4 linked regions of the Homo sapiens genome follow. The protein of the gene in region 4 interacts with the protein of the main gene of each other region in a biochemical or structural test. Each region holds a gene or a part of one and is shown on either strand. Other genes may lie near its edges. The genes, in order: PSMA3, DTL, GADD45A and CDKN1A.

Region 1 (8,536 bases), on a different chromosome or scaffold from region 4:
CTGAGAGACAGAAATAAAGTTAATTCCTATGAGTTCAGTACTCTAAACCCCCAATTTTATTATTTTGTAAATTTTTTTAAAGATAAGGATGCACAGCTGGGTGTGGTGGGTCATGCCTGTAATCCCAGCACTATGGAAGGCCAAGGTGGGCAGATCACCTCAGGTCAGGAGTTGGAGACCGGCCTGGCCAACATTGTAAAACCCTGTCTCTACTAAAAATACAAAAAAATTAGCTAGGTGTGGTGGCAGGTGCCTGTAATGCCAGCTACTCCAGAGGCTGAGGCAGGAGAATCGCTTGAATCTGGGAGGCAGAGGTTGCAGTGAGCTGAGACCGCGCCACTGCACTCCAGCCTGGGCAACAGAGTGAGACTCCATCAAAAAAAAAAAAAAAAAGGATGTACACATATATACTTCTGTTACAGCAAAATATATTTAAGAATCTTCATTTTCTTCAATTAGTAAAAACGACAAAAATGTAAGGATAAGAAAACAGTTAAGAAACGGTAACAGGCCGGGTGCAGTGGCTCACACAAAGTGCTTGTAATCCCAGCACTTTGGGAATCTGAGGCACGTGGATCACTTGAGGCCAGGAGTTCCAGACCAGCCTGGGCAACATGGTGAAAGTCTGTCTCTACTAAAAATACAAAAATTAGCCAGGTGTGATGGTACAGGCCTGTAATCCCAGCTACTTGAGAGGCTGAGGCACAAGAATCCCTTGAATCCGGGAGGCAGAGGTTACAGTGAGCCAAGATTGCACCACTGCAGTCCAGCCTGGGCAACTGAGCAAGACTCTGTCTCAAAAAAAAAAAAAAATGGTAATAATTTAGGGAAAGCTCTTAGAAATCACATTTAAACCTTCTCTTTAAAAGGGAAGGCAGGGCAAGGTGGCTCACACCTATAATCCCAGCATTTTGGGAGACCAAGGTGGGCGGATTACTTGAGATCAGGAGTTCGAGACCAGCCTGGCTAACATGGTGAAACCTCGTCTCTACTGAAAATACAAAAATTAGCCGGGTGTGGTGATGCATGCTTCTAATCCCAGCCTACTCGGGAGGCTGAGGCAGAATTGCTTGAACTGGGGAGGTGGAGGTTTGGCGCCACTGCACTCCAGTCTGGGTGACAGAGCGAGACGCTGTCTGAAACAAAATTAGGTCCGGCACTGTGGCTCACGCCTGTAATCCTTGCACTTTGGCAGGCCGGGGTGGGCAGACCACCTGAGGTCAGGAGTTGGAGACCAGCTGGCCAACATGGCAAAACCCCATCTGTACTAAAAATACAAAAATTAACCAGGCATGGTAGTACATGCCTGTAATCCCAGCTAATCAGGAGGCTGAGACAGGAGAATTGCTTGAACCTAGGAGGCGGAAGAGGTTGCAGTGAACCAAGATCGAGCCACTGCACTCCAGCCTGGGAGACAGAGTGACACTCCATCTTATAAATAAATAAAATAAAAGGGATGACATGGCTGGACATCGATGCTCACGCCTGTAGTCCCAGCATTTTGGGAGTCCAAGGCAGGAGGACTGCTTAAGGCCAGGAGTTTGAGACCAGCCCTGGGAACGTGGAAAGACCTTGTCTCTATAGACACCAAAAAAATACAAAAATTAGCTAGGCATGGTGGCATGAGCCTGTAGTCCCAGCTACTTGGGAGGCTTAGGTAGGAGGATCGCCTGAGCCCAGGAGTTGAGAGGCTGAAGTGAGCTATGATTGTGTCACTGCACTCCAGCCTGGGCAAGAATGAGGAAAAAAGACATTAAATACAGTTTTAAGACAGTGTTTATAGTAATAAAGGAAAATCACATATTCAAAATACTATATGCACTATACAGTTTCTATAAATAACATACTGAAAAAAAATCTTTCCTCTGCCTCGTATCAGTTATTAATGATAAGAAAACATGGCTGGGCCTGGTGGCTCACACCTGTAATACTCGCACTTTGGGAGACCCAGGTGGGTAGATCTCTTGAGGACTGGAATTCAAGACCAGTCTGGCCAACATGGCAAAGGCCTGTTTCTACTAAAAATAAAAAAAATTAGCCAGGTGGTGCACACCTGTAATCCCAGCTACCCGGGAGGCTGAGGCAGAAGAACTGTTTGAACCTGGGAGGCAGAGGTTGCAGTGAGCTGTGATCACACCACTGTGCTCCAGCCTGGGCCACAGTGAGACCCTGTTCCCCCAAAAAGGAAAAAAAAAAAAATTCTGTTGGACAAGAGGTTGTTGTAAAAAAAAAAAAAAGAAAAATTACTTTCCTTGAATGAGTTTTTTTTTAATTTCATATAATCTTATAATGAGACTTAAATGCTAATGAAATACCATTAAACTAAAATAGAATTTCAAATGATTCAAAATTACTCACGTATGAAACACCTGATGGGTCAATCATGTAGAGTTGCGCACCGTCATTCACACTGTAAGACCCTAACATGAAACTGCATGAAAGTATACAAACAGCTTAAACCATGGCAATAACATAAAAGTATTTGTGAAAAAATTATTTTAAAATGCAGTTATATTTTCTTTCTGAGATAAATTACTAATACACATATAACTCAGTAAGTACTTTGAAACAGTGGTTTCAATTAATTAAAACTATTACATGAGATTATTCAAAATTCATGTAGCTTTTGTTTGTTTAGTATTAATCTTTCTGATGAAGGTCTCCTGGAAAGTCTAGCAGTACAGGGAAAGGAGTAACGATAGATGAAAACCACAACTATGAGAGGGCCCAATAAATAAGGCATAAACACAAAAAGATCAAGGGAACAAAATTCCTGACGGAGAGTATACTGAATCCATGTGAAATTCTTTCCACCCTTCATTCTATTTCCCAATATCCTGCCAATCATTTCTCTGCAATAATCAGAATTGGTTCAGTGTATTTTTCTGTGCTCAACAAATTAGGCTATTAGCTGATTGTATGAAATACTGATTTTCTGAAATTGTGACATACAGTGGGCACTGTTTCCATGAGTTCTGCATCTGTGGATTCAACAAACCACAGATAGAAAACTTTCAAAAAACATTGCTTCTGTACTGAACAACTGTGATTTTCTTGTCATTATTCCCTAAACAATACAGTGTAACAGCTATTTACACTGTGTTAGGTATTGCAAGTAATCTAGAGATGACAACATACAGGAGGATATGCACAGGTTATATGCAAATACTTAACCATTTTATATCAGGGACTTCAGCAACCTTGGATTTTGGTATTCATGGGAGGTCCTAAAACCAATCCCCCACAAATACCAAGGGACAACTATATTTGCCTTAGAGTAGAAAAGAAATCAGCAGCATCTTACACATCATCTTATATGCGGAATATTTTAACTATTCAATTCCCATCCCTACCGTCATTTCCTTCCATTTTCTACCGATATGAGACTTATCCTTCAGGATATATAGCTCATTGTCACTATTTTAAAGCCTTTCAACATTTCTTTGAAGAAAATCAGCATGGAGCACAGACTTTTATATGACTGGACCCCTTCCTACATCAGTATCATCTCTAAACCTCATACTCTACACACCAAGCATACTTAACTCTCTCTGGCGCACGTATTTTCATACCAGTTCCTGTGCTTGCAACTACCAAGTCTCCCTACATCTCACACTCTTCCTTGCCTCCTGTCCAGAAAGAGTCCGTTCCCTAATTGTTGTCCCTTTATCATATCACTAATATTTTATCAATGTGACTTCACACCTGTGTCTCCACATTTATGACTAACTCAGTGCCCAATAGATGTTTACTAAAAAAGTTCTCTCTGGCCCAGTGCGGTGGCTCACGCCTGTAATCCCAGCACTTTGGGAGGCTGAGGTGGATCACTTGAGGTCAGGAGTTTGAGACCAGCCTGGCCAACATGGCGAAACCCTGACTGTACTAAAAATAAAAAAATTAGCCGGGCGTGGTGGCAGGTGCTTGTAATCCCTGCTACTCAGGAGGTTGAGGCAGGAGAATAGCTTGAACCCGGGAGGCAGAGGTTGCAGTGACCTGAGATCGTGCCACTGCATTCCAGCCTGGGCGACAGAGCGAGACTCCATCTCAAAACAAAACAAAACAAACAAAAAAAAAGTTATGAAAAAAAGTTATCTCTACTATTCTTACTCCCTTAAAAAGAGTAGAGAAGTTAACTGATGAACTCAGAGCTCAGTTGAAAGGTATTTTACATGGTCTGAAAACAAAGTGTTTCATAATGTAATTTAACTGAGAAGCTTAAGAATGACTAATGTCAGCCTGGGCAGCATGGTGAGACCCCGTCTCTACAAAAAAAAATTTTGTTAATTAGCCAGGCATGGTGGCCCATGCCTGTGGTCCCAGCTACTTGGGAGGCTGAGGTAGGAGCATCGCTTGAGCCAGGTCAAAGCTGCAGTCAGCCATGATGGCACCACTGCACTCCAGCTCAGGTGACAGTAACTGTCTCAAAAAGTAAAAACAAAACCCTAATGTAATATTACCAATAGAATAAAACTCAAGTTTTCTTTAATATCTTAGTAATTAAATATGACTGATGATAAACAACTCAAAGGTAGGACTACAGCTGAGCACTCAGATGTTAGTATATGTATTATTTTGACCAAACATGTTTGACTGTTTTAAGTCATAAGCCAAACATGTCTTTTCATTTTAGAAAAATCTAGTCACAAGTCTTCTCTGTGAAGCCAAATTTGAATATTTATACCTATTCCAGGTCTTTATGCAGCTGAATCTCCACTTTACCCCACAATAAAATATCAGCACTTCAACAGAAAGAGAAACCGTGCCTAATGGGAATTGTGAGACGTAATTTTTAAAATTACCTAAGAATATCAGGGACTAACACCGAGAGCTTATTATAATCAGATTAAAGTCATTGTTATCAGTTCCTTGTTTTATAATCACTTCAGATCTATATAGTCCTTTTCACTATTGAAACCTTTTTTTTTTTTTTTTTTTTTTTTTTAAAGAGGCAGAGTCTCTATTGCGCCAGCTAGAGTACAGTGGTATGGCCACAGCTCATTCCAGCCTTCAACTCCTGGGCTCAAATGATCCTCTCAAGCAGCTCCTAAGTAGCTGTGACTACAGGCATGTGATACTGCACCTGGCTAAATTTTAAATTTTTTTTGTAGAGATAGGTTCTCACTGCGTTGGCCAGGCTGGTCTCATACTCCTGGGCGCGAGGGATCCTCCCACCTCAACCTCCCAAAGTACTGGGATTACAGGCTTGAGCCATGGCACCCAGCCTCAAGTAGTTTCTATGTACACTGTTTTATTTAATCATTGCCCTAATACTTATCGACGAGTTTCTATTTTTAAGTATGTAAAAGGCTAAGATGCTGGGGAACATAATAAATATCTATAGTACAGATCTGCCTTTTGAATAATTCACAAAATTTCTTACCTGCAGCCAAAAGGTCTAACAGCACTGTAGAGTGTATATGCATGCACATACATGGCCACTCTGTCTGCAAGATGCTATGGAGGGAAGCAGAAGAGCTTATTAATAAACTTCTATTACTGTCCAAAAGGTTCCTCAATATGTTATCAACTTACTTTTAGTGGAATGTTGTAGCCAAAGTTAGATCTGAAGTTGGAAGCTTCTTCTCTTGCTATGTCTGCTAAAGAACGAGCATCTGCCAACAAACCTGCTACTGCCTGAAAAAAAAGCACCAATTTACTAGAGGAACACATTCCTATCACAAATCAAAGTCTGCAATTAATAAAGACTTATTAAACATTTTTTTAACAAGTATTACCATTCAAAATAAACTTTTTTGGCTTAAAGGTCTCTCTACAAGGCATTTTGATGCTTGAGTATGAAATTATAATTTAGAAATTTAGTAAGTATAACTTCATTGCTTTGTCCAATGTTCATATTCAGGACATTTCCTTTTTTTTTTTTGATACGGGGTCTCGCTCTGTCACCAGGGCTGGAGTACAGTGGCATGATCTCCGCTCACTTCACACTCTGCCTCCTGGGTTCATGCCATTCTCCTGCCTCAGCCTCCTGAGTAGCTGGGACTACAGGCGCCTGCCACCACGCCCGGCTAATTTTTTTGTATTTTTAGTAGAGATGGGGTTTCACCATGTCAGCCAGGACGGTCTTGATCTCCTGACCTCGTGATCTGCCTGCCTCAGCCTCCTAAAGTGCTGGGATTACAGGCGTGAGCCACCGTGCCCGGCCAATATTCAGGACTACTTCTATCATAAATCCTCTTCCCCTGATTTACTACCACTACCTCATTATAACGAATAAAAACCATGGGTCTTGGTCAGATTTTTTTTTTTTTTTTTTTTTGAGACAGAGTCTCACTGTGTCACCTAGGCTGGAGCACAATGGCACCATCTGGGCTCACTTCAACCTTTGCCTCTCAGGTTCAAGGGATTCTCCTGCCTCAGCCTCCCCAGTAGCTGGGATTGGCTAATTTTTATATTTTTAGTAGAGACAGGGTTTGGTTTTGTCATGTTGGCCAGGCTGGTCTTGAACTCCTGACCTCAGGTGATCAGCCTGCCTCAGCCTCCCAAAATGTTGGGATTATGGGTGTGAGCCGCCGTGCCCGGCCCAAATTTGTTCTTTTCTCTAAAGTTATTACAGGTTGAGGATATCTAATCCAAAAATCTGAAATTTAAAACGCTTCAGAATCTGAAACTTTTTGAGTGCCAACATGACACTCAAAGGAAATGCTCAGGCCGGACCTGGTGGCTCACACCTGTAATCCCAGCACTTTGGGAGGCTGAGGCAGGTGGATCACAAGGTCACGAGTTCAAGACCAGCCTGGCCAAGATGGTGAAATGCCGTCTCTACTAAAAATACAAAAATTAGCCAGGCGTGGTTGCAGGCACCTGTAATCCCAGTTACTTGGGAGGCCGAGGCAGAGAATTGCTTGAACCTGGGAGGCGGAAGTTGCAGTGAGCCGAGATCGCGCCACTGCACTCCATCCTGGGCAACAGAGCGAGACTCCATCTCAAAAAAAAAAAAAAAAGGAAATGCTCAGTAGAGCTTTTTGGATTTTGAATTTTCAGATTAAGGATGCTCAGCTGATGAGTATATAATGCAGATATTCCAAAATCGAAAAATATCCGATATACTGCTGGTCCCAAGCATTTTAGACGAGAGATACTCAACCTGTAACTGTTTTGTTCTAAAAGGCACAATCGCAAATCTTTTTTCAGCCTATTGGCTGAATAAACTACAATGATAAACCATTCCTCTTTCAAGATTTGCGGCTTAGAACTGCAGTTACTAGGCCGGGCACGGTGGCTCATGCCTGTGATCCCAGCACTTTGGGAGGCCGAGGCAGGGGGATCACCTGAGGTCAGGAGTTTGAAACCAGCCTGGACAACATGGTGAAACCCCTACTAAAAATACAAAAATTAGTCAGGTTTGGTGGCGGGCACCTATAATCCTACCTACTCCCAAGGCTGAGCCACAAGAATCACTTGAACTCGGGAGGCGGAGGCTGCAGTGAGCCGAGATCACGCCACTACACTCCAGCCTGAGCAACAGAATGAGACTTTGTCTCAAAACAAAAACAAAAACAAAAACAGAATTGCAGTTACTATGTATGTGCCGAGAGGTCCTCAGGCACTGCAGTGAAATCACATGTTAGTGTGGCATATCTTTTTTTTTGAGATGGAGTTTTGCTCTTGTTGCCCAGGCTAGAGCACAGTGGTGCAATCGCGGCTCACCGCAACCTCCACCTCCCAGGTTCAAGGGATTCTCCTGCCTCAGCCTCCCGAGTAGCTGGGAGTACAGGCATGCGCCACCACGCCCGGCTAATTTTTGTGTTTTTAGTAGAGACAGGGTTTCTCCATGTTGGTCAGGCTGGTCTTGAACTTTCGACCTCAGGTGATCCGCCCGCCTTGGCCTCCGAAAGTGCTGGGATTACAGGTGTGAGCCACTGCACCTGGCCTAGTGTGGCACATTCTAAGTTTGGAGAAAAATGTCCAAGTAGTTCCGTTTGAACATTAGATCGTTTTACTACATTCCTTTCAATGCCACCACATCTTTGAGAAGCTTGGCTGTTAGTGGTTGCTGTGAAAAAAAGTAAGTACTGTGCAAAAATCAGTGTGGAACAGGAAATGACAGTGGCCACATCCAAATTTGGGAGGTTGTGCAGTGTATATACTAGAAATTTTGGTTGCTTAAAATAAAACATTTTAATTTTTAAATAAAAATATTTTTCACTATGTGTGTATTTAAAAAAAAAAAACGGCTACTAAGTTTTTAGGATGTAAACACTAAGTTCTTTGGATCTAAATACTTAATAAATGAAACCATTAGGTATTTTCGGCCTAGGGAAGCCATGAGAAAAACTACTGAGACACTTAAGGTACCATAAACCAACCAAGTTTTTGAAACCCTCTAGCCCAGGACAGTTACAGAATTTAAAAGTGGTATCACAATCTTTAATAGCCTTTTTTTCCTACGCTACCCAGTAATAGTAATAATGATAATTACTAAGAGATACTGAGCACTCATTACATGTTAAGCATTTTGCATAATAATTTTTAACCTCACAACAACTGTATGTGCCAAGTACTATTATCACTCTTG
Region 2 (5,302 bases), on a different chromosome or scaffold from region 4:
GAAGGAGCTGGTACCAGTATCTCAGAGCCTCCGTCTCCTATCAGTCCGTATGCTTCAGAAAGCTGTGGAACGCTACCTCTTCCTTTGAGACCTTGTGGAGAAGGGTCTGAAATGGTAGGCAAAGAGAATAGTTCCCCAGAGAATAAAAACTGGTTGTTGGCCATGGCAGCCAAACGGAAGGCTGAGAATCCATCTCCACGAAGTCCGTCATCCCAGACACCCAATTCCAGGAGACAGAGCGGAAAGAAATTGCCAAGCCCGGTAAGTCAGCAGTGGTGGGAAGATACATTTCCTAACTTAAAAGGGGCCAGACACCCAGATGTCTCAAGTCAGGATGCTTTTTTTTTTTTTTAAAGAAAGAAATCTATTTATTCCTAGTGCTGCCAAATTCAGCACATAAATACAAAACAAATTTTGCATGGGCCATATTTTTAGTAAAAATGTTTTATGCTAAGAAACTATTTTTGTTTGTCTGAAATTCAAATGTAACTGAATGTGCTGTATTTTATCTGGCAACTCTACTTACTCCCATTAAAATCCCTCCTGTCAGGGTCCATACTCCTCAGCCCTGTTGCCTGATTGACCAAAGCCTTCATCATGCTCCAGGATATCAATTCAAAAATATCTCCCCTCTCCTGTTAGACAGTATGCCATCCTCTTTTTATAGATAAAGCTGTTGTTCATGGGAAAGTTGCCAACATCCATAAGTAGATTTCCAGTTTGTAATTCCATTTTGTGATTATTTAAAATACAGTGAAACTTAGATACTTACAAAACAATTTGAGTGCAAAATCTTTCTAGATTTTTATGACTTCTCCACAATCTTTTATAATCATTTTGCCACACCACAGTAATACTTTTGACACCTATATCTATTCTTTTTAACATTCAGTGTAGTGTCACTTATCTTTTTAGGACTCATTTCATTGACTGACTTAATATTTAAATTAGATAATATCAGTCATCAGTGATTGATGGCAGAAATAGGTTTGTGAACCTTGAAAAACAAGATTCATTACAGTGGTGGAGGCAGAAGTAGCTGAGTGCATTGGGTGAGCTATGGGCACCAGTCAGAGAGAATAAAAAGCTTCTGTTGTTTGCATGTGAAGGGGAGATGGGTTAAGGAAGTTTCCACTGTACTTCACAGTAGCTCTTGTGGTGGCGGGATGATTGAAATAGAATCCAGAATCATGATCAGCATCATCTGCCATTTTAAAGGGCAGAAGCTAGATAACCAACCTTAGGCCAGTTTTAGTTTAAAAAGTGTTCATAACCCCGACCTGCTCTCATGAAGACCTATCCCATAATTTTAGAAAAATAAACTGATAGATTTTAAAGACAACTTAGTACACAAACTGCAATCAAGACCTTGCTGTAGAAAGTGGAGAAAAAAGACAGTTATAAGGAATCTTTCCTTCTCTCAAAATTATGACTGCTCTTTATCCCTAGCCAAAATTTCTATTTTTTTTTTCAAGGGAGCTGGTCTCAGCTATGTGTTAGCAGAAAAGTAGTTTCAATGAAAAACTATTTTCACTGATACATAAATCTTAAAATCTTTAAAAAGTAGAAACAGTGTGCTGGTCTTGTAATTTATTTGAAGCTAACATTTCTTAAAAATTTTTTACCTTTATATGATGATAATGTCAACCTTCAGAAGAGAGTAACATCTTCCATTTGAATACCTATCTTGTTTATAAATTGGGGGGGCTGATTTATTCATTTATTTCAAAAAGGATAGTAATTGTAACTTATTTGTTTCTTATTAGGAGACTTAGCTAGTAAATGTTTTCTATTCACATAAGAAGTCTATGCCTTCTTTCCCTACATATCATCTGTTAAGTTTTTACTATAGTCAGTACAAATCAGCCAAAAGAGACATTGCCATTGAAAGTATTTGGAGCTGAAAGCAGGCTAAACAATGAAATTTCTGGCAGCCTAATTTAAGGTATGCCTTAGTAATAACTTAGTAACAGTTGAACTTCAAGGAAATCTCTGAAATCTAAACTTTCTTCTTCTAGGTCACCATCACGCCCAGCTCCATGAGGAAAATCTGCACATACTTCCATAGAAAGTCCCAGGAGGACTTCTGTGGTCCTGAACACTCAACAGAATTATAGATTCTAATCTGAGTGAGTTACTGAGCTTTGGTCCACTAAAACAAGCTGAGCTTTGGTCCACTAAAACAAGATGAAAAATACAAGAGTGACTCTATAACTCTGGTCTTTAAGAAAGCTGCCTTTTCATTTTTAGACAAAATCTTTTCAACGCTGAAATGTACCTAATCTGGTTCTACTACCATAATGTATATGCAGCTTCCCGAGGATGAATGCTGTGTTTAAATTTCATAAAGTAAATTTGTCACTCTAGCATTTTGAATGAATAGTCTTCACTTTTTAAATTATTCATCTTCTCTATAATAATGACATCCCAGTTCATGGAGGCAAAAAACAAGTTTCTTGTTATCCTGAAACTTTCTATGCTCAGTGGAAAGTATCTGCCAGCCACAGCATGAGGCCTGTGAAGGCTGACTGAGAAATCCTCTGCTGAAGACCCCTGGTTCTGTTCTGCCTCCAACATGTATAATTTTATTTGAAATACATAATCTTTTCACTATGCTTTTGTGGGGTTTTTTTTAAGTATGTGTAAAAATGTGATGCTCAGATAAGTACATTTATATCAGTTCAGTGTTAAAATGCAGTCTCTTGAGTTAAAGTCATCTTTATTTTAAATGCAGTGATAAATGTCAACTCTTCGGAGAAACTAGGAGAACAACAACAGAAAGCTGTGTTTGTCTTTTTTCTCTCAAATATATCTCCCGTATGAGATTTCAGGTCCCCATGTTTTCACCAAGCAATCTGCTATGTCAGCCAACCCAACATCACTTTCTACAGGAGGTTATGATTTTTGCCATTTACTAGAGGAAGATGTTTTATGAAATCAATTTGGGGTTTGAATTCAGGTGCAGTCATCAGTTCTTTAGGGGCTGCAATGTTTTAAAAAAAATAAGTCATCAGATTTTAAGAAAAAAGTGATGATTTCTTATTGATATTTTTGTAACAGAATATAGCTCTTAACTGAAAATCCAGAACCAGAAACATAAATCTTGAGTTTCTTTTCATGTACATAAAAAGCAATAGCCTTTTAGTATAGATAGCCCTGAGCCAAAAAGTAATAGAATTTTCTCTAGATATTTAATACAGAGAGTGTATAGACTGACTCTAAGTTAATAATGTGCAAAATATCTTAAACATCCCTCCCCTTATTCAACAATTATGTATCAGTGATCTTGAACCATTGTTTTATATTTTTCACCTTTGTAACCTCATGGAAAGAGGCTTTACATACTTTCTATGTACTATTTACTTAGAAGGGAGCCCCCTTCCAGTCATGAAACTTCATTTGTTTTATCCATATCCCTGAGGACTGTGTAGACTTTATGTCAGTTTTTGTCATTATTTGAAAATCTATTCTGACAACTTTTTAATTCCTTTGATCTTATAAGTTAAAGCTGTAACAACTGAAATTGCATGGATCAAGTAAGCATAGTTTTATCCAGGGAGAAAAATAAAAGGAAGCCATAGAATTGCTCTGGTCAAAACCAAGCACACCATAGCCTTAACTGAATATTTAGGAAATCTGCCTAATCTGCTTATATTTGGTGTTTGTTTTTTGACTGTTGGGCTTTGGGAAGATGTTATTTATGACCAATATCTGCCAGTAACGCTGTTTATCTCACTTGCTTTGAAAGCCAATGGGGGAAAAAAATCCATGAAAAAAAAAAGATTGATAAAGTAGATGATTTTGTTTGTATCCCTACCCATCTCCTGGCAGCCCTACTGAGTGAAATTGGGATACATTTGGCTGTCAGAAATTATACCGAGTCTACTGGGTATAACATGTCTCACTTGGAAAGCTAGTACTTTTAAATGGGTGCCAAAGGTCAACTGTAATGAGATAATTATCCCTGCCTGTGTCCATGTCAGACTTTGAGCTGATCCTGAATAATAAAGCCTTTTACCTTATCTGATGTCCTTTTCTGAGCTTTTTGCATTACCTAGAAGCAGTCTACAAAAAAGAACTATAGTAGTCAAGAATCCCTTCTACTTGTTCATTAAAATGTTTATTCCCAAAGTTATAATCTATTTCAAGCTGAAAGAGCTTTTAATAAAAAACATCTTGCTTGGATCAGACTTTGAGCATTTAAGATGGCTTGGATTACTTGATAAAGCAGGGTGGAGTGATGTAGTTCTTTTTCTAAACAAGTATTTCCAGCACAAACTTTTCCATTTGAATACATTCCAAGCACTATTGCTAGGATCCCGTATTAGAGTTTGCTTTTGGCTGTTTCAACACGGGCCCTTAATTAAATTTTGTGAGGATGACTGATTAGTGTCTTCAAATGTCTCTTCATCTGGACTGCACATTTAACTGATGTTGGATCAAGACCATGTGTAGCTACTCTTGTGTTGAGGGTCAGCCCATTATCCCCATCCCCAGCCCTAACAGCTTAAAACAGCTTTAACTCCCATCTTGAAATTAGCCTATGGCCATGTTCATAACATAGGTAGTGTGTGGGTTCAACAAATGCTTTTTGAGAGCCTGTCATAGCCAACACACTACTGCTCTTAAGTCTGTTTTTCTGCTTTTCCTAGTCCCTAGTTCCTTTTACATTGCTCTTAAAGCAAAGGCCAAGTAGTCTAACAGAGAAAAATAAATTCCACAACTAAGATAGTGTGGGCAACATTTTACAAATGTGTGTCAGAAGACAGACTGAGTGAAAACATTGTACTAGAAAAACTGAGTTAATTTCCTCCCTATGGCAATTCAACACAAGTGGTTTCTGCTTCATAATTCCATAAAGGGCTAAATGTAGGCCCAGTTGAGCTCTTGCAGTAGATCTCATTGCTTCTCACACAGGTCTTCACAGGGAATTCTTTGCCTGCCCTAGGTTTGGATCATGCCACATTACCAATTAACCCATTACTCATAAAATTCTCAGGGATTATGGTAAAAAAATTGGATTATGCATCAGTTCTTTAGATATTGGTTGGAAGTTATAGGCAGGCTGAACACATTTTGTTGGACTTGAGTTAAGTTTAATGCTTTGATGCCTGGAATACGACCCCAGCTTGTTATAAGTTAACCATTTTGTTCCCTAAAGTGGTAGCAAAACCTGTTTTATTTCTGAGCTGTGTTTGAGTGCAAGCTAAAAAGTGTAGGGGTTGTTAAGAAATGATATAAGATAAATTCAGCCTTTAAAAAAGAAATCACCTGAGCATATTAAGCAGCTTGTTTATATTGG
Region 3 (8,861 bases), on a different chromosome or scaffold from region 4:
ATATCCCTTTGCCCTCTGTAACTAGGGAAATAAAACTCACTAAGACCAACATAAAATGATCTCTCTTCAGTAAAAACTGGTAGGTAACTTTAGTCACTCTGTCCTCTCTGCCTCCTCAACATTTTGTGTATAATCTTATTACGGCGCTAATATCATTTATCTTTAATTATTCAAATTTTGCAAGCTGAATCTCTAACCATCCCTTTTTCCTGACAACTCCAACTCCTTTAAATCACCTGCTTTCTGATTATAGACCTGGTATACAGCAAAGCGTCAGTAAAATGTGTTTAATAAAGTACAAGTTAAAAGAAACAAGAGCACACAATAAGAAATGATGCAATTATTCATACCAGTTTATTGTAGGTATTGTGTTTCAAAAAATTTATAGCATAAATAACTTTTCATGTCATAAAATAACTTAGTAGAATTTATAATAAAACTTTGAGAATTTAATATCTCATCAAAATACAATAAAATATGGTTTTCAAATATGATTAACCCTTTCGGCTTTTCTTTTACTTGAGGGCATATAAACCAAAAATACCCAAACTATGGCTGCACACTTAAACTTTAACATATTTGGTTTATTTTAATGTAACTCAACCATTCTAAATTAATACATAGTTTTCCTTCCTGCATGGTTCTTTGTAATTTTTGTTCCTTTTGACTTATTTTTCTGTTTCAACACAGCTTCCTTCTTCATTTTCACCTCTTTCCATCTGCAAAGTCATCTATCTCCGGGCCCCCAGAACATGTAGTTGAACTCACTCAGCCCCTTGGCATCAGTTTCTGTAATCCTTGCATCAGTGTAGGGAGTAACTGCTTGAGTAACTACAAAGGTATTTCAAAAACTTCAGTGCAATTTGGTTCAGTTATTTTCATTCAGATGCCATCACCGTTCAGGGAGATTAATCACTGGAACCCATTGATCCATGTAGCGACTTTCCCGGCAAAAACAAATAAGTTGACTTAAGGCAGGATCCTTCCATTGAGATGAATGTGGATTCTGGAAACAAATTTATAAAAATAAACTTATTTTAAAAACCAGTATATTCTAGTAATTATACTTTTGAGGAGAAAACACTTGAACATTCTATATTTTGGCTATGTGACATGGAGACAAATTAGAAGCACAAAAAAATTAAAGTTTCTTCAAGGTAGTTGGGTTCCCTGCAAAAGCGTTAAGGGTAATTACCTATTAAACTACACATTGCAAAGTCTGAACCCATGCAACCCAAGCTGAACCACATACATATGTTTGCATATCTGTTCAGTTTTGCATGAGAGTATCATTCACCGGTTTGCTCTACCAAACTTGTTACCCTGACCTGAGTGAAACAGTTTTGAGAAAGATTTCCATGCTGTGTGCACAATGAGATGAGAGCTGCACAGCAGTTAACTGGAATTGCCATCAACCATACTCCAAGAGACAGAATAGTACTTTTAAGGAGTAGCAAAATAATCGGGCTGTCACTTGACTAGACCAGTCAAAAAAGAGCAAAATTTAGAAGACAAAAGTAGCACATTTACCCCTGAAAACATAACTTCCCTACCTACCAAAGGTTTTTATCAGGAAAAAAAAAAAGAGCCATTAAAAAAATGCAAGATTGCAGAGAAAAAAAATTCCACTCTATCCTCTTAATGTATTTCTAGGGAATTAACAAGGTTTGTCTCCTACACAATTTCTATTTTTAGCTCTGACTGGCAGAGAATGAAGCTGACTCCTTAATGAGGGGTGAGCCAGGAATTCATTTGGCTTTATCTAATCTGCCCTGCTAAAGGAATTAGTCACGGGAGGCAGTGCAGATGTAGGTAGGGAGTAGCTGGGCTGACTGCTGACTCACAGGGATCTCTTCCGCTGCTGGCAGTCCCCAGCATGCTTAGACATGTTCTGTACCACAGAAAATCCTGGTGATGAAACTAGCACATCTCGGCTGAAAGTCCAGCCACACTCTAGTCGGACAAAGGCAGCCACCCTCCTGACCCCCACCTACCACAGATCCACAATCAGGCAACCCAGCCCTGACTCCCGTCCTTCCGGGGCTCTACCCTGCAGGCTGCAGTCCCCCAGTCCCTTACCGTCACCAGCACGCAGTGCAGGTCCGGGGGCTGCTCGGCGCCCTCGCTCGCCGCGGGGCCAGCGTCGGTCTCCAAGAGCAGGAGCTCCGCCAGCCGGCCCGGGTTGCTGACGCGCAGGATGTTGATGTCGTTCTCGCAGCAAAACGCCTGGATCAGGGTGAAGTGGATCTGCAGAGCCACATCTCTGTCGTCGTCCTCGTCCGCCGCCAGCAGGCACAACACCACGTTATCGGGGTCGCTGGGGGCAGCGGGCGGGGCCAGTGAGCGCAGAAGCGCGGGCGCCCTCAACCACTGCCCGGGTCCCTGGGGGTCGCCGCCCGGCCCGCTCGCCCCCTCCCTTCCGAGACAGGCAGAAAAGCGACAGGAAGTGGCGCGGCCGGGCGAGGGGCGCCCAGCCAAGGCGACCTCCCGGGCTGGGGCGGGAAGGGGTGCCATGGGGGACGCGCAAGGGCCCCACTTACACGTTGAGCAGCTTGGCCGCTTCGTACACCCCGACAGTGATCGTGCGCTGACTCAGGGCTTTGCTGAGCACTTCCTCCAGGGCATCCCCCACCTTATCCATCCTACACGCGGGCAAGGGCGAGGGGTCCCGTCAGCCCCGGTGCCCTCGGGGCCATCGCCGCCCCCCTCGTCCGGTACCACGCCCCTCCCTCTCGAATGCAAGCACCACCGCGCACCTGGGCTCTACGAAAACCCGGCGCTCCCGCGGCCCCGTCACCCCCCATGACCCCTGCACGCCCAAGGACCGGGCGTCCCGTGAGAAGTCCCGAGAGTGCCCCTGCCACAGGCTGCCAGCCACGGGAGCCGCACGGGCAGCGACGGCCACTGCTGCCCTTTGCAAAGGCCCCGGCGGGGCTCGTTCGGGTTGGGGGGCACGCTCTTTCAGTCCGTGGGAGCTCCACGGAGAGTCCCGAGGGAGCAAGGGCGGGAGTTGCCCTGTGCAAACTTTTTAGCTTCCTCCCCTGCAAGCCTTCCACAGCCCGGCTGCACCGGGGAGCGCGGGGTAGGTAAGAGAAGTTCGGGCCGGAAGAGTCCGCAGGCCGACTCACCTTTCGGTCTTCTGCTCTCCAGCCGAGAATTCCTCCAAAGTCATATTGCAAACTGCAGGTCGCCCAGGGAGAGAGCGCGGCGTGCGGGCTGCTCCTGCCACGGCTAGCGCGCGGGCGCCTGCTTTCTGCACTCACTCACAGGCGCCGCTCCGGCAGCTCAGGCCCTGGCGCTCTCCGGCCGCCCCTCGCCCGCCCGGGCTCCTCCTCCTGTGCCAGCCGCCGCAGCTCCGGCCACCCCTCCCGCCTTGCTTGCTCGCTCGCTCCCCGGACCTCGCCTCGCCACGGGCCGCACGACACTAATTGGGCCGCTGCCTCCCAGCCACTGCCTACCAGCCACTGGAGGACAAAGGGCCCCGCTCTCCGGGGTTATCCTGCCAACCCTCAGCCAACCACCTTCCGCCTCATTTGCATGCAGCTTGGCCATTGGGCTATGCAAATCAGCCTGCTCCAGCAATTTGACCCCAGCTCCTGGAGTCAGGTTGAGAGGAGCGGAAAAGGGAGGAGCCACGCGGGAGGCGAGCCGAGGGGGCGGGGGCGGGGGCGGTGCCGAGAGGGGAAGGCGGGTCCCGCGCGCACTCTTATCCGGTTGGCGGGGACCATTGGGAGTGGGGGGCTTTAGCAGAGGCTAGAGGTGGCCTCAGCTTGGGCTGAAGCAGGCTGCCAAGTGTTTTTCTATAATAGTTGCGGCACTTTTTTCTTATTATCTTTTCATGTCTTTTGTTTTAAGGGGTGGCTATTAAAATCTATTTCCAGGGTTAATGCACTGAAGTCTAGTAATTATTAGTAAGCAGGTTACATTAAAAAAGTGTCTCCAGACCTCCGGGGCAAAGTTTACCTCAGAAGTGTTGTTTATCTAAGTCTAGGCGAAGCTGCTTATTAGCAGTAGTATTATTTCGGTGCCCTGATGGCTGGTTTGATTTATTTTTGGAAAGCTGCAAGGGTTGGAAGCTGAAAAAAGAAAAACCAACCCGTTTGTATTCAGGGATGGCAGGGAACCAAGTTAGAATCTTTTCCACAGAAAGCAGAACGGTTTCCCACCTGCCCGGTGTAACTGGGAAATCGTGAGCTGGTCTGCGTGGGGAGCTGGTGACCACATGTGGGAATCCCTGGCAACCCAGATTCTCCTTTCTCAAAGAGCCTTGCCCAAACAAGGATCCTTCTGGACGCCCACCAGCTGAGAGACAACCATCTGACACCCACACAGCCCACAAGTCTAAATTCAAAATGCTCTCGATATGCCCTAAGCTTCCTTTCCTAACGTATGTATGTCGTTACCTTCCACAGAGAGCCTCCTATGATCTCACTGTGAATTATTGATGTTAGATGCTGAATCATGAAGCTGTAACTATAGGAAGTTTTTAGTCATATGCTAAAATTTCACCTTTGAGATAATGGCAACTTGTAGGTGGAAAGCAGACCTTTAAAACTGCAAATGGTAGTTACACATTTTTGAAAAACAAACTTTAATATATAGACTCTCACTGAGTAGTTCAAAAGTCCCTTCCTTTGTTTTATGGTTTATGCAATAAAAGCAAAAACATTTCTTAAACCTACTGAAGTCATCAAAAGTGGTGAAAATGGCTCCCACATGCTTGCATTCAAAACAGTGCTTGCATTATTAAGGTTGCTGTACAGCCAAAGGTCACAGAAGTAATTTCTGCAAAGGTACCTGGAAGTTTTGCACCCTTATGTTTTTATCACTCTAGACAAAATATTCTCCAGCTCTCTTGATCTTAATTTGGTGGAAAAGAAAAGTGATAGGTTTTCTGGTTCATTTATTTGAGTTGTCATTTTGCACTCATTTTTTCACTGTGTTGTCAGCCATGGACAACATTTGAGTAAAGAAATGGTCATGGTCAGTGCATAATTCACCTAAGCATGACTATGTATCTCATATCTATGCCTTAAATCTTAACATTTGATGTCTTTCTTAAAGAATTCCTCAACATTGAAATTTAGGTAGGTTACCGAAGCATTTTCAGTTTTGCAGACAAAACCTGAATTACACAATCTAGCCTGAGTCATCATTTGGCGATTGTTAATATGTTCCGTGGAACTCCAAGGTTCTATCCACTAGGCATTTCTTAGAGGTTCTTGGGAAGAAAATGTGATCACAGCAAGCTGACAAAGAATTAGGGAATCATGTGAGTTTCTTGACAGCAAGGACTTCATCAGTTTGGTGTCCTCAGCTCCTAGTACAATACCTGCATTTAGTAGAAGCACAGTCAAGGTTTATTGAGTTGAATAGAATTTGAGAGTTAAATAAGATATCAGAATCCTGCAGTCCTGTGCATTGCATGAATTCTAACATATTGCACATTTAACGTTAGTTCAAAAACACTTTTGCCTGTCTTCTTCTATACCAAGAACTGTACAATTCCTGGTCCTTTGCCTTTAAAGAGCTTAGGCTCTTATTGGTATGTCCATGCTTGAACTGGATTTTGGGACAAAATAGTATGCACTGTCATCAGCTAGCTATGCTGAAAGTCCCATGACTTCAGTCATCTGAATGGAGGCTGTAGGACAGTAGAACCGGTGTATTGTTTACACCAATTCAAATGAACCACAGTCCTAAAGTGCCCCACCCAAGTCGACTATATCCAGTAAAAATGTGATATCAAATGGTTACTTCTTATTATAGGCTTAGTCCTCCACTCAAAAATTATACTGCATGCTATATTTGACTTCATCAGAAAGTTATTTGCCCAAGTATTTTGGGGATTTTCTCTGAGATAAGCTTGGGCTTCCAGTATGCAAAAATATTCATTTGTCATACTTTCTGACTCAGATACGTTACATCATTTTGCCTGATTGCTGAGTATACCTAGAATGTTTTCTCAGTGATTATCTTCAAAGTTGGGCCTCATGACTGGAAGTAAAAACTGCATTTAGCTACACAGTTAGATTGTAGTTACACATTAGAATGGACATAGTTGATTTATCATTAACTGTTTATTAGTCCTGGAGGACATTGATAGTCAATGGTAAATCAGAGAAATTTTCCTATATCAATATTATATATATATATATATTTCTTTATAATCAGTGTGATAACTCCAATATGTGATGTCATTTTAAAAACCACTACAGGTAACTCTGACAACTGCCAAGTACACAGGAGTAGAATGCTCTTGTAGTAATGTTTGTAAAGATACCAAATGATTATATTTAGAAATCATATGGAAATATATACTCAAGAATTGTTCAATTATTTTAGCACTGCTACTTGCTTTGCATATTAAAGATCTTTTTGATATTTTAGTCATGCTTATCCTACATACATTCCTACTACTGGTTCCATAATGCAGAATTATTCTTTCTTTCTTTCAAAAAACAATCAATGCTTTAACATCTGAAAGAAATATAATGCTTGTTATTTCAGTATTAGATCATTGTCCACATCAAAGGAGAAGATCAGTTCAACTATGATGGATGTATTTTCCACCTACCTAGAATTGTATTGTATTATTTTTTCTTGTTAAAAATCATAAGGTTCCTGGTCAGGTGCAGTAGCTCACGCCTGTAATCCCAGCACTTTGAGAGGCTGAGGAGGTCGGATCACCTGAGGTCAGGAGTTCAAAACCAGCCTGGCCAACATGGTAAAACCCCACCTCTACTAAAAATACAAAAATTAGTTGGGGCCAGGTGTGGTGGCTCACACCTGTAATCCCAGCACTTTGGGAGGCCAAGGCGGGTGGATCACCTGAGGTCAGGAGCTTGAGACCAGCCTGGCTAAGGAGTTTGAGACCAGCCTGGCTAACATGGTGAAACCCCAGCTCTACTAAAAATACAAAAATTAGCCAGGCGCGGTGGCAGGCACCTGTAATCTTAGCTACTCGGGAGGCTGAGGCAGGAGAATCACTTGAATCTGGAGGTGGAGGTTGCAGTGAGCCGAGATGGTGCCATTGCACTCCAGCCTGGGTGACAAGATTGAAACTCCGTCTCAAAACAAAAACAAAAACAACAACAAAAAACTAGTATAATATTCTTAATGCCATCTTTTTTGTGTGTTCAATAAATCCTTATCCTGTGGAAATTCTCTTCAGCTATTAAGAATCATGGTAGTAATCATAGTGTTAATTTGAGCTTTGGGCTGGCCACCTTGTGCTGCCATCAGCTGCTCACATTTCACCAGCCAAGCAAGGCCCAGCCAGTGGAGAAGTCAGATGAAGAGACTAACTAGAACATTCTTCAAGATCAACACCCCCTAACCCCTCACCTCTCTGTCGGTGCGTATCAGAAGGCTTCTATCATGGGAGGAATGTTCTGAGAGTCTCTGCTTTGTAGCCTAATCACTGGTGAGGGAAGTAGGTGGTCTGAGTTGGTGATTGGCCACTGGTAGGTTGTTTTTGCACCTTGAACAGATTTGTGAGTTTGCTTTTTTTTTTTTCTTTTTTGAGACAGGGTCATCCTCTGTCATCCAGACTAGAGTGCAGTGGCACTGTCATAGCTCACTGCAGTCTTGAACTCCCAGGCTCAAGCGATCTTCCTACCTCAGCCTCCTGAGTACCTGGGACTATAGGCACATGCCATCACACCAGCCTAATTTTAAAATTTTCCAAAGAAACGGGGTCTTGCTTTGTTGCCCAGGCTGGTCTCAAACGCCTGGGCTTAAGCAGTCCTCCCACCTTGGCCTCGCAAAGTGCTGGGATTACAGGTGTGAGCCACTGCGCCCAGCCAATTTGTGAGTTTTCTCTCTCTGAAATAAAAGAAACAATTCTATTCACCCATCAACTTCATTGCAAAGTTTTCTTCTTCCTAACTTCTTAACAGCTCATGCTTATACCTCTTCTCTGTACTCACTCTCTTGGTGACCTCATATGGTCCCATGGCCTTAATTATTTATATGCTGATGACTCCCAAATATATTTCAAACCTGGTCAGTCATCTCTTCTGAACCTCAGCGCTTATTCATCATATCTGCATCAATATATAGTAAGCATCTTAAACTTAAAATGACAATTGTTGCTCTCCTGATTGTCTGGCCAAATCTGTGCCTACAATAGGTCAATGGCAACTCCATTCTTCCCACTGTTCAGCCCCCCACACCTTGGTGTCATTCTTGATTCCTTTTTCTCACAACCACATCCAGTCCATCAGTAAATCCTATAGGCTCCATTTCAAAATGTAAAATAATTCAACCATTTCTCATCACCACTACCACCAGCATCATCTCCCACCTAGGAAAATGTAACAACTGGTCTCCCTCTGCTTTTGCCTTTCCTCCCTTCACCTCCAGCAGCCGAAGTGATCCTGTAAATAGTAAGTCAGATCCCAGTCAATTCCTTAACCCAAAGTTATCAATGGCTTTTCTTTTTACTCAGAGAAAAACCCCTAGTCCTTACTATGGCTTAAAATACCATATAAAATCTGTGCCCATGATGAAAATGTCCTAATATTGACAATGGTGACAATTGTACAAATCAGTTAATATAGTAAAACCCATTGAATAAAATATTTAGGGTGTGTACAGAATGTGAATTATATCAATAAAGCTGTTATAAAAATCTGATCCCTACAGCAATCTTATCTTACACTGTTCCCCCCATGCTCATTTCTCTCTAGCCATATTGGACTTCCTTTTGCCTCAGGGCCTTTGTGCTGACTGTAAGCTTGGAATGTTTTTTCTCCTGATACCACATTGCTCATTGCCTTCCAGCCCCCTTCCTAATGAGCCATACCCTGCTCACTCTAGTTGAGTTGCAATACCTCTACTCCCTGGCACCACTAATC
Region 4 (7,655 bases):
TCAGGAAAGGGGATCAAAAGTGGTTCACATCCACTTTCCCTACAACAATTTAGAGATCTATCAAATCATTAAAGTTTTAAGTGGTCAAATAAACTGGGGCATGCTGGGTCATTCCCTCTGTGGTAAAGGACAACTTAGTATATCTTGCACCTCTTACCATTTTTTTTTCTTTTTTTTAAATTATACTTTAAGTTCTAGGGTACATGAGCACAATGTGCAGGTTTGATACATAGGTATACATGTGCCATGTTGGTTTGCTGCACCCATCAACTCATCATTTACATTAGGTATTTCTCCTAATGCTATCCCTCCCCCAGGCCCCCACCCCCCTCTTACCACTTTTTAATTTGGGTTTCAGAGGCAGTGTACTAAAGATCACTCCAGCCCATTTATTGGATGATTTAGTAAGCTGCCATGTTTAAGCAGCGGCCGGAGCAAGAGAGGGCTCTGAAACAGGTGCAGGCTATGGGACAAGCACTTGGGTCACACGCCCCAGTGTATTCCCTGGTCCTGGACTTTTATCTGTGGATAAGTAGACAGTTGTGAAGTCCCTGGAAGTCCCCTCTGGCGGGGAGAGTCTCGTTTCAGAACTCTATGATTCTAGTAGAAAGCTCTGCCCTGTGCAGTAGAGAATTATTCCACATTTGAAAAGTAGTTCTGGGCCAAATTGCAGTGTTGGGAGCAAATAAATGATTATTGTTTTAAGCCACTCAGTCTTGGGGTGGTTAATTATGAATAGACAACCAGAAGATGCATGCAACAGCACCTTGTTTTTTGTAATGTTGGATAACTTTCCACTATATAAATATACCACAATTTGCATATCTATTCTGTTATGGACATTTCAGTTATTTCTAGCTTGGGTCTGTTAATAATAATGCTGCTGGAAGCATTCTTTTGGTTTTTTTCTTTTTGAGGGAGACAGACAAGGTCTCACTCTGTTGCCCAGGCTGGAGTGCAGTGGTGCAGTCAGGGCTCACTGCAGCCTCGACTTCCCAAGCTCCTCAAGTGATCCTCCCACCTCAGCCTCCCAGGTAGCTGGGACTACAGGCACGCTCCACCACGCCTGGCTATTTTTTTTTTTTTTTTTTTTGTAGAGATAAGAGTCTCGCTATGTTGCCCAAACTGGTCTCACACTCTTGGGCTCAAGCCGTCCTCCTGCCTTAGCCTCCCAAAGTGCTGGGATTATAGGTGTGAGCCACTGTGTAGAACATTCTTATGCCTTTTTCAGTGGAAATATGAACTCATTTCTCTCGAGAACATGTCCAGGAATAGAATTACTGGGTCATGAGGTAGCCATGAAGGTAGGCATCTTTAGAAGATATTACCAAACAGTTTTTTATTTATGTATTTATTTGAGATGAATCTCACTGTCACCCTGGAAGAGGCTGGAGTACAGTGGTATGATCTCAGCTGACTGCAACCTCTGCCTCCTGGGTTCAAGTGATCCTCCCACCTCAGCCTTCCAAGTAGCTGGGATTACAAGCGTGCACCACCATGCCCAGCTAATTTTTGTATTTTTAGTAGAGATTTCACCATGTTGGCCAGGCTGGTCTTGAACCCTTGGCCTCAAGTGATCTCCTGCCTCAGCCTCCCGAAGCACTGGGATTCTAGGTGTGAGCCACTGCGCCCGGCCCAAACAGTTTTTTTAAATAAGAGATCCAGTTGCTCCATAACCTTGCCAATGCTTGGCACTGTCAGTCTTTTTTAATCATTCTGGTAAGTGTATGGTGGTATCTTATTGTGGTATCTTAATTTGCATTTATCTGATGAATAATGATGTTAAGCTATAATATATTCTTTACAAAAAGATTACACAACAAACCAAAATATTGACATTGGTGATCTTTGCAGAGGTGTGACAGTAGTTTTTGTTTTGCTGTTGTTTTTTGCAGCAGTCTTTCTGTTTGCTAAGTTTTCTGCATTCTCTAAATTTAAATGCTTAATTTTTAAAATTATTTAATTATGAAATCCTTCCCAAAAGCCCATTTATTTGTTCTTATAAGGTATAATAACCACAATAGTAATATTACAAGTAAAGTCACTAAGAATCATTTATTGAGCACCTGCTGTATATTCAGCATTGTGGGAGGAGCTGTGAAAGACACAGAACAGTACAGGGTGTGGTCCCTGCCCTCGAGAGGTTTACAGTCTAGGTGGAGAAACGGGAACCAGGACACATGGGGAGCCGAGAGAAAACAGTCCAGGCCAGTATGTTACAGGAGCTGGAAGGTGTTTGGGGTCAGACCCCAATACTCCAAGTACACTAAGCACTTCAGTGCCTCCAGGGGCTCAACGTTAGTGCCAGGAAAGACAACTACTCCCAGCCCCATATGAGCCCACGTGGCATGCCCTGTCCATAGCCTCTACTGCCACCATCTTAAAATGTCTGACTCCTTGTTCCGCTGCTAATCAAAGTGCAATGAACTGGGGAGGGATGGGGTGGATGAGGAAGGTCGCTGGACGATTTGAGGGGCCAGTGTCTCCCTCCTAGAAAGATCTACTCCCCCATCATATACCCCTAACACAGAGATAACCCCACTCAAGGGGGCCTGTGCCACCACATGGGACCCTCACCCCCACAGCTAGAGGAGGGGGCGGTCGCTGCTTGAGCTGCCTGAGGTAGAACTAGGGTGCCCTTCTTCTTGTGTGTCCCTTCCCCTTCCAGTCCATTGAGCTGGGGGTGGGGGTGGGACAGGCACCTCAGAGCCACCTGGAGCTGAGAGGGTACTGAAGGGAAAGGACAAGGGGGAGGGACAGCAGCAGAGGGGAATTGCAGAGCCCAGCTGGAGAAAAAGGGTAGCTGGGGCTCCTCAAAAGGTACAGGGGAGCCAAAGAGGGAAAAGGCTCAACACTGAGACGGGCTCCCCAGTGCAGGTCAGAGGGGCCATGAGGGCAGGCGGGGTGGTCTGCTCCAGGACCCCACCTTCCCCCTGCCTTCACAAGACAGAGGGGGGTATCAAGAGCCAGGAGGGTACCAGGTCCCCAGCTCAGCCCTAGGCTGTGCTCACTTCAGGGTCACCCTGCCCAACCTTAGAGGAGGTGAGGGGACTCCAAAGTTTTTGATGATGCCCCCACTCGGTGAGGCCCCTTCAAAGTGCCATCTGTTTACTTCTCAAATGAAAAAGAATTCAGGTCTGAGTGTCCAGGAAAGGGGGTGAATTTCATAACCGCCTGTGACAGCGATGGGAAGGAGCCACACCCCTCCAGAGGGTACCACCCAGCGGACAAGTGGGGAGGAGGAAGTAGCTGGCATGAAGCCGGCCCACCCAACCTCCGGGAGAGAGGAAAAGGAGAACACGGGATGAGGAGGCTTTAAATAGTATTTCATAAAATAAAAATGCCCAGCACTCTTAGGAACCTCTCATTCAACCGCCTAGTTTTTGTTTAAATAATTCTAATGCCAGAGGCTGGGGGGCAGGGGGCGGCCAGGGTATGTACATGAGGAGGTGTTTAAATTAAAACACAAATAATAATTAAGACACACAAACTGAGACTAAGGCAGAAGATGTAGAGCGGGCCTTTGAGGCCCTCGCGCTTCCAGGACTGCAGGCTTCCTGTGGGCGGATTAGGGCTTCCTCTTGGAGAAGATCAGCCGGCGTTTGGAGTGGTAGAAATCTGAGGAGAGACAGCAGAAGTCAGCCAGGCCAAGAAGAAGAGGACGCGGCGGAGCTGCCCAACTGAGGAAGACAGTGGGGGGCCAGGACACCCTTCCCTGGGGCCAATGGGGCCGACTGCTGAGAACAGGAAGAACTCGGGGAACGTCCACTCTGTCTCTTGAGGGGTATTATGGAGTGTCCCACCATGCTTCACAGATGTGATTTTATCCATCACCGCACCCGCACCCATGGGTCTGCTCTAAGTCAAGCTGCCCAGCAGAGGAACCACTACTAGCTCTGTGTGCTTGTTTAAACAGACTACAATCAAATAAAATGAACAATTCAGTTCCTCAGTCACATGAGCTGTGTGTCAAATGCACAACAGCCGTATGTGGCTCGTGGCCCCTGTACCGGACACTCCCATCCCTGCAGAGTTACTGGACAGTGCTGATCTAGGGATTCTGTTACAAAATCCATGAAAGTGTTCAGCACAATGCCGGGCCCATATAAACGTCAGTAGTTGTTGTTATTATAATTAGTCTTGACCCAACGGCAAATTCACTTTGAGACCTTAGATAAATCACTCTACCTCTCTGAGCCTGGTTTCCTTGCCCTAAAAGGATGGCAAGGGGCTGGGCATGGTGGCTCACGCCTGTAATCACAACACTTTGGGAGGCTGAGGCAGGAGGACTGCTTGAGCTCAGGAGTTCAAGACCAGCCCGGGCAACATGGTGAGACCTTGTCTCTACAAAAACTCAAAAAATTAACCGGGCGTAGTGGTGTACAACTATAGTCCCAGCTTCCCAGCTACCCAGGAGGCTGAGGTAGGAAGATCGCTTGAGCCCAGGAGTTTGAAGCTGCAGTGAGCCATGATCGTATCACTGCACTCCAGTCTGGCCAACAGAGTTAAGACACCTGTCTCAAAAAGAAAGGCGGGCAGGGTGACAAGAATGTCTTATGTTATAACATTGCTATAAGGACTAAATAAATCTACCTTAGAAGCTTGGCAAAGGGCCTGGCATAATGAACATTCCCAATAAATGTTAGCTAGTTGGTCTTTGCTGCCTACTTGCTGTGTGACCTCAGGGAGGTTGCTTCCCCTCTCTGGGCCTGTTTCCTTCTACCTGGAGCATGCTGGACCAGGACCAGACAGGTCAGCCCTTGGACCATGGATTCTGAGAATCCTGGTCCCTTACAAAGTCCTTCCGTGCACATGTCCGCACCTGTCATGCTGGTCTGCCGCCGTTTTCGACCCTGAGAGTCTCCAGGTCCACCTGGGGACCCTTCAGCCTGCTCCCCTGAGCGAGGCACAAGGGTACAAGACAGTGACAGGTCCACATGGTCTTCCTCTGCTGTCCCCTGCAGCAGAGCAGGTGAGGTGCCAGGCCGCCTGCCTCCTCCCAACTCATCCCGGCCTCGCCGGGGCCCCGTGGGAAGGTAGAGCTTGGGCAGGCCAAGGCCCCGCACACGCTCCCAGGCGAAGTCACCCTCCAGTGGTGTCTCGGTGACAAAGTCGAAGTTCCATCGCTCACGGGCCTCCTGGATGCAGCCCGCCATTAGCGCATCACAGTCGCGGCTCAGCTGCTCGCTGTCCACTGGGCCGAAGAGGCGGCGGCAGGCCTTGCTGCCGCATGGGTTCTGACGGACATCCCCAGCCGGTTCTGACATGGCGCCTGCAGCAGAGATACAAGGAAGGCCCTGGTCACGGCGGAGATTAGACACTATGTTACCTGGCCGGGCTTTGCTGTGTCACCTCAGGTGACGTCTTCCTACCAGAGGGTCTCTCTCACTCCTTCCAGCTGGTCTTCCTGCTTCCTTCCCACAGGAGGCCTGACCCCCACCAGCAGAGCTCAGCCAGCCTGGCACACCAAGGTCACTGGGAGAGCAGGCAACTGAAGGGCAAGCTAATGTCAACAAAGGCAAGTCTATTGCAAGAGCAAGGACCAGGGTCCTGTTTGCCACCAGGTATTATCAGCTAAAATCAATTTGTTTTCCCCCCAGAGGTGTCCCTCATGGGTGTGAATGCCCCCCAAATATGTGTGAATTGCCAGAGTCCAGCAGTTTCCTAATCGCAGCCCTGGCCAGAAGGTCAATTCCCAAAAGAAGAAACAGTCTGACAGTTCCTCCAGCCTCCTAAGTCCCCCGACCCAGATCCCCAAGTAGGGTAACCCTGCTCTGCCAAGTAAAAGTACCCGGGACTTTGGGGCAAAAAGCACCCGGGTTGTGGTCCTAGCTCTGCCAGTTACTACGTAAGCTTTAAAAAGCCACTTAATGTCTCTAGGTCTCAGTTTCCTCATCCATAAATGGGGCCATGTACAAGTTTAAAGAGCATGGCTACAGACACATACTCAAGAAATTGATCACAGAGTCCATGCAGCAAGGCAGACAGAACAGAGCTGAATGAAAGGCTGTATCCTGGTGGTTAAGCAGGAGGGCTCTGGAGCCAGATCACCTGGGCTGGAGTCCAGGTTTTACTAGGTGACCCTGGGCAAGCAACTTAACTTGTCTGAGCTCTAGTTTCCTCATCTATAAAATGGGGATAGTAATAGTGACTGTCTCAGAGGATAGACATGAGAATTAACTGAGTTAATGTAGGTAACGTGCCAGCAGCACTTCGTATAGAGAAGTGCATTGAAAACAGAAGTATGATTATTCCTCTCTGCCTTCAGTTTTACTGAGCCTCCCCCCTATCACTTCCCCCTGCCAACTACCTCCTTCAGACAGCAGCTGACAGGTGCTGTAGGCTGAGGGCCTTTCCCAAGGATGTCGTCAGGCGGGTGGCCTAGGGGTAAGGAGGGGCCGGGCGGGGCAGCGCAAGGGATGATTTCTCCCAGGCTGAGCCACATCCTGCCAGGCACATCAGGTGATCTGAAGTCTAGACACCTGGCAGCCCCTGCCTCGTGTTGCCTGTGTCCAAGGAAACCGTTTTGCAGGCAAAAAGAAAATTAAAGGTGGCTGGTCTACCTGGCTCCTCTCCTCCCCCTTCAGGAGAGGGAAAACGGAGAGTGAGTTTGCCCATGAGGGAGCCCTGGCACCTACCTGCCTGCTCTGGCTTGACTCCAGGGCTGAGTGACTGCACGACCTTGGCAGCAACTGGATTTTCCTAGGGACAAGTCCCAACTTGCAGTTTCTGGGGGTGAAAGCTCTGCTGAGTCCTCATGAGGCAGGAAGCCCGGGACACATGCCACATCTGCTCCACCCCACCTCACCCCACTGCTTGTGATCAGTGGAGCCCACAGTTTCACGTCCCAGCTGGTTGGGAGAGGAGGCTCTTGGTAACTTCACACCAAGTTTAAAGGGCAGGAGATGGAAGAGATATGAGACTTGCCCCTGAGTCATACAGCTAAAAAGGCCAAAGGCCACTGCCCCATAAAGGGGTCACCCAGTACAGTGGACAGAGCCCTCAAATAACCTCTATCCACCCTCTGCTAGGCATGAGTTGGGATTTATTTATATATTTTTATGTTTGGGGGCTGTTCTAAGCAGTTTAAAAATATCAATCCTCCTAAAAAGTGGATATCTATTAGCTCCCTTTTTACAGAAGAGGCAACCAAGGCTCAGATAAGTTAAGTAACTTGCCTAACATCACACAGTTCATAAGTGGCACAGCCAGGATCTGAACCCAGGCCTGTTTGCCCTGAGTCCTGTGCTGTAGTATTGAACCCCACTCCCTCTCTAATTTTGAGGTTTCTTAACCAGAGAGGCCCATCACAATCACTTGGGGAGGCCAGGGGCAGTGGCTTATGCCTGTAATCCTAATACTCTGGGAGGCAGAGGTGGGAGAATCATTTGAGCCCAAGGGTCCAAGACTAGCCTGGGCAACTAGCTGAGACCCTGTCTCTACTAAAAATAAAAATAAATAAAAATTAGCTGGGTGGTTGGGTGCAGTGTCTCACACCTGTAATCCCAGCACTTTGGGAGGCCGAGGAGGGCGGAGCACGAGGTCAGGAGATTGAGACCATCCTGGCTAACACGGTGAAACCCCGTCTCTACTAAAAATACAAAAAAAAATTAGCCGGGCATGATGGCAGCACCTGTAGTCCCAGCTACTCGGGA

The links.
Region 1: the proteins of CDKN1A (region 4) and PSMA3 form a complex in vitro, tested with the Homo sapiens proteins (4 studies listed by BioGRID).
Region 2: of the proteins of CDKN1A (region 4) and DTL, one has a biochemical effect on the other in vitro, tested with the Homo sapiens proteins (3 studies listed by BioGRID, with this or other methods).
Region 3: the proteins of CDKN1A (region 4) and GADD45A form a complex in vitro, tested with the Homo sapiens proteins (3 studies listed by BioGRID).

Annotation. Positions count from the first base shown.
Region 1 is NC_000014.9:58,254,843-58,263,378, reverse strand, and holds part of PSMA3 (proteasome subunit alpha type-3), read right to left. Parts: intron 5,635-8,536; coding exon 5,533-5,634; intron 5,455-5,532; coding exon 5,381-5,454; intron 2,432-5,380; coding exon 2,359-2,431; intron 1-2,358. UniProt on the Homo sapiens protein: Component of the 20S core proteasome complex involved in the proteolytic degradation of most intracellular proteins. This complex plays numerous essential roles within the cell by associating with different regulatory particles.
Region 2 is NC_000001.11:212,100,824-212,106,125, forward strand, and holds the end of DTL (denticleless protein homolog), read left to right. Parts: coding exon 1-261; intron 262-2,018; coding exon 2,019-2,117; 3' UTR 2,118-4,190; downstream 4,191-5,302. UniProt on the Homo sapiens protein: Substrate-specific adapter of a DCX (DDB1-CUL4-X-box) E3 ubiquitin-protein ligase complex required for cell cycle control, DNA damage response and translesion DNA synthesis.
Region 3 is NC_000001.11:67,679,806-67,688,666, reverse strand, and holds GADD45A (growth arrest and DNA damage-inducible protein GADD45 alpha), read right to left. Parts: upstream 3,467-8,861; 5' UTR 3,173-3,466; coding exon 3,129-3,172; intron 2,643-3,128; coding exon 2,541-2,642; intron 2,318-2,540; coding exon 2,080-2,317; intron 1,007-2,079; coding exon 893-1,006; 3' UTR 333-892; downstream 1-332. UniProt on the Homo sapiens protein: In T-cells, functions as a regulator of p38 MAPKs by inhibiting p88 phosphorylation and activity.
Region 4 is NC_000006.12:36,681,714-36,689,368, reverse strand, and holds the end of CDKN1A (cyclin-dependent kinase inhibitor 1), read right to left. Parts: intron 5,273-7,655; coding exon of another isoform or gene 5,268-5,272; coding exon 4,823-5,267; coding exon of another isoform or gene 4,724-4,822; intron 3,918-4,723; coding exon of another isoform or gene 3,859-3,917; exon of another isoform or gene 3,619-3,858; coding exon 3,569-3,618; 3' UTR 2,037-3,568; downstream 1-2,036. UniProt on the Homo sapiens protein: Plays an important role in controlling cell cycle progression and DNA damage-induced G2 arrest. Involved in p53/TP53 mediated inhibition of cellular proliferation in response to DNA damage.